Regions from separate parts of the Homo sapiens genome. Here all the other regions are reported to be linked to region 3. Evidence: microRNA targets listed by miRTarBase, many of them from high-throughput screens and not tested one by one. Region 3 holds a microRNA gene; each other region holds the end of a gene's coding sequence.

Evidence for each region. Region 3 holds the annotated microRNA hsa-miR-4684-5p (CUCUCUACUGACUUGCAACAUA, at 1,138-1,159, opposite strand). A microRNA usually pairs through its seed, bases 2 to 8, with sites in the 3' UTR of a target mRNA and lowers its output. Matches are read on the target gene's strand: a 7mer-m8 pairs with bases 2 to 8, a 7mer-A1 pairs with bases 2 to 7 and ends in A, and an 8mer does both.
Region 1: miRTarBase lists PGAP1 as a target of hsa-miR-4684-5p. Seed matches in the 3' UTR shown: 7mer-m8 at 1,233-1,239 and 7mer-m8 at 393-399.
Region 2: miRTarBase lists TBL2 as a target of hsa-miR-4684-5p. Seed matches in the 3' UTR shown: 7mer-m8 at 455-461, 7mer-A1 at 551-557 and 7mer-m8 at 1,925-1,931.

Annotation. Positions count from the first base shown.
Region 1 is chr2:196,838,482-196,841,589 of GRCh38, forward strand. PGAP1 (post-GPI attachment to proteins inositol deacylase 1) reads right to left here. Exons shown (of 27, transcript NM_024989.4): 27 at 1-2,891. The coding sequence ends at 2,753. Among named protein-coding and RNA genes, the nearest start is that of C2orf66, 31 kb to the left of the region's middle.
Region 2 is chr7:73,567,580-73,570,687 of GRCh38, reverse strand. It overlaps TBL2 (transducin beta like 2), which reads left to right. Exons shown (of 7, transcript NM_012453.4): 7 at 1-3,108. The coding sequence ends at 181. Among named protein-coding and RNA genes, the nearest start is that of TBL2, 9.4 kb to the left of the region's middle.
Region 3 is chr1:22,717,689-22,720,688 of GRCh38, reverse strand. It overlaps MIR4684 (microRNA 4684), which reads right to left and starts at 1,172; the gene lies at 1,091-1,172. The region is part of intron 1 of EPHB2 (EPH receptor B2); the gene reads right to left. RefSeq lists an enhancer at 2,836-3,000.

The DNA.
Region 1 (3,108 bases), not on the chromosome of region 3:
CTCTGGTAGCCAGCTGGGTTTAAAGTGCATCAAGACTCAATGAAGACCCTGTCAAAATGTAAGTGTATACATATGTGTCTGTATATATACACATATAATGGCTAAAGACCCAACCTACTATTGATTATAAAATGTTTAATTAGAATCATTTTTGTAGTCCTTAAAATGAAATTTTTTTTGGCATAAATAATACTTTAGGACTTGGTGATAACTACATTCCCATGAAAATATTTGAGTGAGAATTAGTGTACCTAGTCTGCTGCTTTAAAAAGTAAATGTACGGCTGGGCGTGGTGGCTCACGCCTGTAATCCCAGCACTTTGGGGAGGCAGAGGCGGGCAAATCACGAGGTCAAGAGTTTGAGACCAGCCTAGCCAACATGGTGAAACCCCGTCTCTACTAAAAATACAAAAATTAGCCAGGTGTGGTGGCGGGTGTCTGTAGTCCCAGCTACTCGGGAGGCTGAGGCAGGGGCATCACTTGCACCTGGGAGGTGGAGGTTGCAGTGAGCTGAAATCGCGCCACTGCACTCCAGCCTGGTGACAGCGTGAGACTCCATCTCAAAAACAAACAAACAAACAAACAAAAAGCAAATGTACTACTCACAAATGAGAAATTGAAGCTTGTTACATTCATGAACAGTACTAACTAAACAAAGAGGTTTTAGAATACATAAACATAATATTTATGGCTATCAATAGAAGATCCAAATTAATGAATTTTCTAAAGTTCTTTCTGTATATGGAACTAAGTCCAAATTCAGAAATAGTTTAAGGACACATGTAATCTGTAACTTGAGATACACTAAAATATCAGGTGACAGAATAAAAGACGCAATGTGTATCAAAGTTGTTTATAAGTATAGTTAAACATAGGGAGATGTGTCCCTATTTAAACATATACGTGGTATGCCATGGGACAAGTATATAATCTAATAAATTCTCTCTCTTTCCTCTCCAGCTGAAACATATAGCACTTTGTATTTTATCTCTTCTGCTACTTCTCTCAAACAAACAAGCACCTGTCTGCCATATCCCCACCACGAGTTTATCATTTCCCTTTAATGTTCTCAGTAAGTTAAAATATGAATACTGAAAAACATGCTCAAAGCTAGAAAAGACAACAATGGGATCAAACAAACTTAAAACCCTCAGAGATGAGAGCAAGACTCCCTTCAACTGAGGCCAAAATAGCCAGGACCTGAGGAAGAACTGAGAAGAGAAGTTAGGTAACTCTCTACAGGCAGTAAGCAGAAGTAACTGTCCACAGGCAGTAACAGCTGAGAGGCTGTAATGGAATCCAGATGCAATGGCAGATAAAATAAAACTGGTGCTCGAGGACATCCCTGGGTACTAACAAGGATACATATTCACAAGTGCAATGGTGGAATCACTGGAAATTTACATGAGAGGCTTTGTGGAATCACTAAAACTTTAGTTGAGAGGATTTGGGCATTTACAGTCTACACATCTAGAAGAACTCTATAAGCCGGGTATGTCTCAGCCTGAGTTTACGCTATCCTAAGGCAAAGAGTATACTCTTCTGCCTTGCCGATTACCTTCTTCCTACTCTTGTAGCTAAAAGTGACGTAAATTCTGAAATGAAATAAAATGTTACTCTTATTTGTCAAACAGTAATCCCAGAAGTCACCTAGGCAAATCAAGATTCCACTGTTAAACCTAGTGGCTAATGTCTCCAATTTATTCAGGTGTACTGTTTATACTCATGCTACTAATGGGTTAACAGTTGTCTACTGATATTCCATTAATAGTATAATATTATACATCAAATGTGATGTTACCTTGATCATGTTGTTGTTGTTGTTTTTTCCCACAGCAGAAAAAATGGTACAAACCTAGAGTTTCCAACCACTGGAATTTAGTTATTTTAACAATCCATTATGACCTCAGGCACTTTTGGCAACCATGGTGCAATGAATTGAATCCAATGGTATAAACTAAACAACTGAACTGCTCCAATACCAGGAAGCAAATAGCTACGAGCATTTTTTCTTTACATTTAACAGCAGACCTCTTTAATAGTCTCCTGATGTTCACCGAGAATATATAGTAAGATTCATATTTGAAAAATAGCAAGAAAAATTGTGTAAGTTTGAATCATGTTTCCACCCATCAATCTTGCATTGGTTACCAAGAAAACATATCTCCTTACCATTCAAAGCTCTATTTTCATAGATGTAAGAAGACAAGATCCACTTTGTTCATGGTGGCTGCCAAAAACTAACCAAAGGCTTTCTGTGGCTATTTAACCTTTGAGAAACCAAACAGCTATAAATTTCATCAGTTATTTAAAGACTTATTTCTTAATAGGTAAACTATAGCAAATTCAAAATAACCTACTTTTGTGAAAAAAAGTTTGATGAAATGAGCAGAATGCTTGCAGTGAGACTGCAAATAATGCTGCATCTACTAAATCTCTCATATCAGACTTCTCGTACAGTTGATAAAACAGACTATTTTATATGCACAGGAGTCCTCAATGATAGTGATCACCATATATCCCTTCATGAATTTTTCAAAAATGATTACTACATGGATTCCACACCACAAAACAAAACCATGCTTCAACTACTTCCCTCAAACATTACAAAACTAATTTCCTATTTTCAATATTGTAAAAATAGACTTGTCTTCTCCAAAGGATCTTGCTGTCCATACTGATGGATCTGTGTGTTCCCTCTTATCACTGGCCCTAAACACATAAATTATCTTCATCATTCCTTAAGTCCAATCTTACATAAAGTTGCATAATGCATGGAGTAAAAGAGGAATGAAGACAAAGCATGGAAGCCTATATAAATGTGCTGACCCAAAAGCAATCACACCAACAGCCAGAGGAAGTGGAAATTGTGAAGTAGTCTTCAACAATTTACTGTAAAGAGACAGAGAAATATACATTACTTATGTGAACTACATTGTGAGCCAAAATTATATCAATCTTTTATACAGTTTTGGAAAGATAAATATTCTAAGTGAATTTAAATGAATTTTTAATGATATGAATTTACCTATTCATAATTTCTTTTTTTATTTTTGAGATGGAGTCTCACTCTGTTGCCCAGGCTGGAGTGCAGTGGCGCAATCTCGGC
Region 2 (3,108 bases), not on the chromosome of region 3:
GGCCTCCTGTGGGGACCGGGCGGTGCGGCTGTTTCACAACACTCCTGGCCACCGAGCCATGGTGGAGGAGATGCAGGGCCACCTGAAGCGGGCCTCCAACGAGAGCACCCGCCAGAGGCTGCAGCAGCAGCTGACCCAGGCCCAAGAGACCCTGAAGAGCCTGGGTGCCCTGAAGAAGTGACTCTGGGAGGGCCCGGCGCAGAGGATTGAGGAGGAGGGATCTGGCCTCCTCATGGCACTGCTGCCATCTTTCCTCCCAGGTGGAAGCCTTTCAGAAGGAGTCTCCTGGTTTTCTTACTGGTGGCCCTGCTTCTTCCCATTGAAACTACTCTTGTCTACTTAGGTCTCTCTCTTCTTGCTGGCTGTGACTCCTCCCTGACTAGTGGCCAAGGTGCTTTTCTTCCTCCCAGGCCCAGTGGGTGGAATCTGTCCCCACCTGGCACTGAGGAGAATGGTAGAGAGGAGAGGAGAGAGAGAGAGAATGTGATTTTTGGCCTTGTGGCAGCACATCCTCACACCCAAAGAAGTTTGTAAATGTTCCAGAACAACCTAGAGAACACCTGAGTACTAAGCAGCAGTTTTGCAAGGATGGGAGACTGGGATAGCTTCCCATCACAGAACTGTGTTCCATCAAAAAGACACTAAGGGATTTCCTTCTGGGCCTCAGTTCTATTTGTAAGATGGAGAATAATCCTCTCTGTGAACTCCTTGCAAAGATGATATGAGGCTAAGAGAATATCAAGTCCCCAGGTCTGGAAGAAAAGTAGAAAAGAGTAGTACTATTGTCCAATGTCATGAAAGTGGTAAAAGTGGGAACCAGTGTGCTTTGAAACCAAATTAGAAACACATTCCTTGGGAAGGCAAAGTTTTCTGGGACTTGATCATACATTTTATATGGTTGGGACTTCTCTCTTCGGGAGATGATATCTTGTTTAAGGAGACCTCTTTTCAGTTCATCAAGTTCATCAGATATTTGAGTGCCCACTCTGTGCCCAAATAAATATGAGCTGGGGATTAAATACGAATAAGACATGGTTTCTGCCATCAAAGATGGCTGGTGGGAGAGAGAGATACACCCTTATTAAGTGCTTTGTGTTAGTTTATTCATAGCTATTGTTATATATGTCAAGGCAAGAGAGGACCAGAGCAGGACAGAGGCAATGGGTATTGAAGTTGAAGGGGTACATTTGATAAGAGAGTCGGTATTGAGAAGTTTAAATTTGTGAATTTGAAGGCTGCGTGGGTGTGGCAGGTAAGGGAAATGAGGTATCTGGGAAGGCTTGAGTGTAGGCAAATTTATTCATCCCAAGTCAAACTCTTGATCTCTCTCACGAAAACTATGACCCCCCCTGGTTGCCCCTGACCTCTCAATGTTGGAACAAGCCACAACCGTGGAGTTATCCTTGATGACTCCCCATTCATTATCCCTTCTGTCCCACCACCACAGCTGTCATCTGTTCACCAGAACGTTCTTTTGGTTACACTCCATGTGACATCCTGAGGCTGTTGCTTCTCTCCAGCTTTTCTGTTACCATCCTGGTCCTGGCTACTGTCACCTAGTGGGCCACTATAATATGGCTTCCTAATGGATCTTCCTGCTTCCTCTGTTGCCTCATTACTTTTCTATATAGCAGAATGATCTTTTGAAAATGTGAACCAGATCACATTATTCCCTAGTTAAAACCCCCCAAGGCTTCCCATCACACTTGGAATAAAATCCAAAAGAATTTTTCTAAACCAAAAATAGTAAAAACAATTTTTTTTTTCTGACAATCTCTTGTCACCCAGGCTGGAGTACAATGGCGCAATCTCGGCTCACTGCAACCGCCGCCTCCTAGGTTCAAGCGATTCTCCTGCCTCAGCCTCCAGAGTAGCTGGGATTACAGGCATGTGCCACCACGCCTGGCTAATTTTTGTATTTTTAGTAGAGACAGGGTTTCACGATGTTGGCCAGGCTGCTCTCGAACTCCTGACCTCAAATGATCCACCACCCCCCTTGGCCTCCCCAAGTGCTGGGATTACAGGTGTGAGCCATCGTGCCTAGCTAAAAACACTTAATCCAAAATTCTTACCATGGCCTGCAAGGTCCTGTGTAACCTGGCTTCGTCCCCCCTCTAAATGCTATGAATGTCAGATGGGCACCGTAAATGTGTGAAGGGTCAGTTACCTGGGTGTAAGGCAGTAGAAGGTGGGGACAGAAGTGAGCTGGAGGGCGGGCTTGTGTCCTGCCTGCAGGATGGGGGGTGGCTGCTACTTATTCAGGAATCCAGCAGAAATTGCTTCACAGAAGCTAGAAGTGAGCAACTTAAATAACTAAACACTATCTGGACCAAACAAAACACTAAGGTCGGCCCGATGCAGTCCACTACTCTCTTATTGGCAGCTTCTGGCTCACTGTTGAACCCACTGGAATGAGAGCACCACCGGGCAGACTCCTGGACCATCCCACTGTCAGCTCTGTGGTCCAGGCACAGTACCTGGGACAGTGTAAGCACTCAATGTGAAACTCAAGCCAGGGGCAAGCCACAGACCTCCCAGTATCTTCTCCGCGCATCTTCCCACTCCCAGTCTCCATTGTGGTTTTGTATGTTCCTAACCACAGACTTTTGGCAATGCTGTGCACACAAGGCCTGAGGAGTATTTCCTTGGCAATTGTCAGAAGAATGAGACTAAAACACTTCCTTTGCGCACCTGTTCTTAGAAGCAGCTCTGGCATTACTCCCGTTGTGTATCCAGGACAGGAAGTGGCAGTAGAATGTTGAGTTACTGAAGTCAGATGTCTTCAGTTCCAGTTCCAGCTGGAGAGCAGATAGTAGGTCCGTTGACCTCTCTGAGCTTGTTTCCTCAGCTGCAAAATAAGAATGAATCCTGTGCTACCCACCTTGCCATGTTGTGTTTCAGTGAGACGAGAAAACACTACCAAAAAGTCATTCCACAGACTTCTGAGGACAGAAAGTGCCCTCACTCAAGCTTCTCTTGTAACCACAGAGAAGGTGTCTGGATATTAACATAGAGCAGAGGCCACCAAGGTTTTTCTTTTTTTTAATCAAAAATCCTGCATGTGAAGGCAGTAATTGTATCTTAATATTATAATTTCAACATCTGTGG
Region 3 (3,000 bases):
GGTAAGTGCTGGGGCGGGGGGGGGGGGGAATGAGATTTCTGGCTTCCTGTTGCCTCCCCACCGCCATCCCTGGACTGGACGATAAACTACCTGTGAGAGGCTGTCTCCAAATATGGCTGCCAACAATTCCTCCCCCTACTAAACACGAAGCCACTCCTCCCAGTAAGGGGGCGTCTAGATTCAAGTTTGGACCACAGGTTGGCCCAAGAAACATGGACAACAACAGGGTGCAGGGGCGGGCACTGAACTCTGAGTGTCACCTGATTCAGTGGGTCAGGACATGTTGAGTGGGACGCTGGATAACCCACCATTAAATTTTCCATGCTGAACAGCTGAGCAAGAAATGGGACTTCTCTTCAAGGATAAAACAAAAAAATCAAGCCCAGTATATTTTCCTTTTCCTTGAACCTGATGAGGAAGCCTGGGATGAATCTGAGCTGGTGTTGTGACTGGCTTTGACCACCACAGAAGGCTGCAGGGGTGACACTTTGTGACATTAGAGCCCAGCCCTTAAGAAGCCTTGCAGTTTCCATTTCACCATCTTGGGAGCTAATTGCCATGGATAGAGGCGCAGTCTAGACTAGCAAAGGATGGGAGATAGCGAGGAGCGTAGGGGGACCAGCCTTCCAGCCTTCTCTATGAGGGCCTCAAAGATGTATGTGAAGCCACGATGGAATTTCCAGCCCAACCTAGCTGAGTGCAGCCTCCTGAGTGATCCCAACTGACAACCCGGGGAACAGAATAAGCACCCAGCTGAGCCCAGCCAATCCACTGAATCAGGACAACTAAGAAATCATTATTGTTTTAAGCCAGTAGGTTTTGTGGTGGCTTGCTAAAGATAAGTGATATGCTTTTCAGGAGTGGAGTCCTGTACTTTTTGTAGCTCTCCCTTCCCTTGCCTGAACCCCTGAACCCTGGCAATGGGCACTGAATCCTGGAGCTGGAAGAGGCCTCCAAAATCACTGAGTCTCACCCCTGTCATTTTATAGAAGAGAGAGCTGAGGCTCGGGAAGCCATGCAATTGACTCCAGGTCACACAGGGTAACAGGGGCAGATCCAGGAGGCAAACTCAAGCCCTTACAGGGGTTGAGCACCAAGGGTACGTCTCCACCGACTTGCAACACACCAAGACAAATGTATGTTGCAAGTCAGTAGAGAGGTACCCCTGGTGCTCACACATTCTGTCTTAAGAGGCAGTCACTCCAGCCAACTGTGGCCATGTGGGAATGTGGGCCCTGTGAAACCAGATTGTCTGACTTTTCAGAAACGCCAGAAACAGGACTTTTCTGTAAAATCTCTTGATTTTCAAATGTTGGCTAAGAATTTGAACTGGATAGATGAGCTATTAAGATTGGCCCTGGGCTTCAAGCTTGGTCCCGCTGCTGGCTTTGGGCGAGTCATATTATCTCCCAGACCTCAGTTTCCTCATCTCTAAAGTGGGCCCCGTGGCTCCTGCCCCTTTCAGGATGGCTGTGAAGGCCTGATGAGCTATTGTATTTGGAAGTACAAGCTGCAAATGGCCCTGTGACTGTTTCGTAGTCTCCATTCTCTGTGGAGGCGCCCCTTACAACATAATGAGTTAACACCCGATTTGTCTAAGTTAGAACAACATTATTCTGACCATTATCACAGAGATTGCATTTTTATGGCAGGTTTGTGAGTTGTAGAACCCTCCCATTGCATTATCTCAGGATGTTGATGGAGCTGGAAGCTGGACAGCTGCCTTAGAGACCCTCATCAGAGCCAAGCCTTTCCTCTGAGCAGGGAGGCACATTCTAGAAGTGGAGAAGAGCATGAGCTCTGGAGTCACCAGACTTGGGTTTCAATCGCTGCCTCACCACTCCCTAGGTGTCCTTGGGCCAGTCACTCCTCTCAGAGCTTTGGTTTTCTCATCTGTAAAATGGGCACAATAATACAACGACCTGTGGGGCTCTTGGGGCAACTGCACAAGGCAACACACATAATGCTGTTAGTACAATGTCTGGCACAAGAATTGACAGCTGCTGGGCGCGGTGGCTCACACCTGTAATCCCAGCACTTTGGGAGGCCGAGGCAGGTGGATCGCCTGAGGTCAGAGTTCGAGACCAGCCTGACCAACATAGTGAAACCCCATCTCTACTAAAATATACAAAAAATTAGCCGGGCATGGTGGCAGGCATCTGTAATCCCAGCTACTCAGGGAGGCTGAGGCAGGAAAATCTCTTGAACCCGGGAGGCAGAGGTTGCAGTGAGCCGAGATTGCACCACTGCAGTCCAGCCTGGGCAACAAGAGCAATACTCTGTCTCAAAAAAAAAAAAAAAAAAAAAAAGAATTGACAGCCATTCCCATGATCATGGCAGGGAAGGTGGTGCCTGGCAGGCACTGGGCAAAGAAGGAGGGTACAGCCATGAAGGAGTCTACCCCTTTCCCAGATTAGGGAGGCTGAATTGGAGTGGGGAGGGGGCCTTTGAGAAAACCTGGATGGTACCCTGAGTGGGCAGGCTGGAGGGGCCTCTCAGCTACTTGGCAAGCCAGTCAGACCCTTGCCCTGTAAGGCTCAGAACACAGTGGGTGGGGGAGAGCTGGAGATGAAAAACCTGGTACACTGGCCCCCTGTTCCCCTACTGTGAATTGAGCTTCCCATTGGTAGAAAGCAAGGATAGCAACCGTTCACATTTATTGCAAGCTTAGCACACCTGAGGCACACACTCAGCTTAGTCTTCCTCAGATTAACACATCCATTGCTCACAACCATCTCAAGAGCTAGGAACAATGATTACCCCCATTTGAAAGATGAGGAAACCAAGGCTCAGAGAGGTGAAAACACAAGCCAGAGGACACACAGTACGGAGCAGTCTGACTCCACACACATTTCCTGTAACCCCCAGGCTCTGCTGTTTATAGAACAGGAGAGAAAGTGATCAGGGCTAAGCAAAGCCTCTGTAGGACTTCAGAGAAAGGGACAAGTCATTCTGGCCAGGGGCACGAGGGTGCTGCTGACATTTAATGGTTACGGAAAC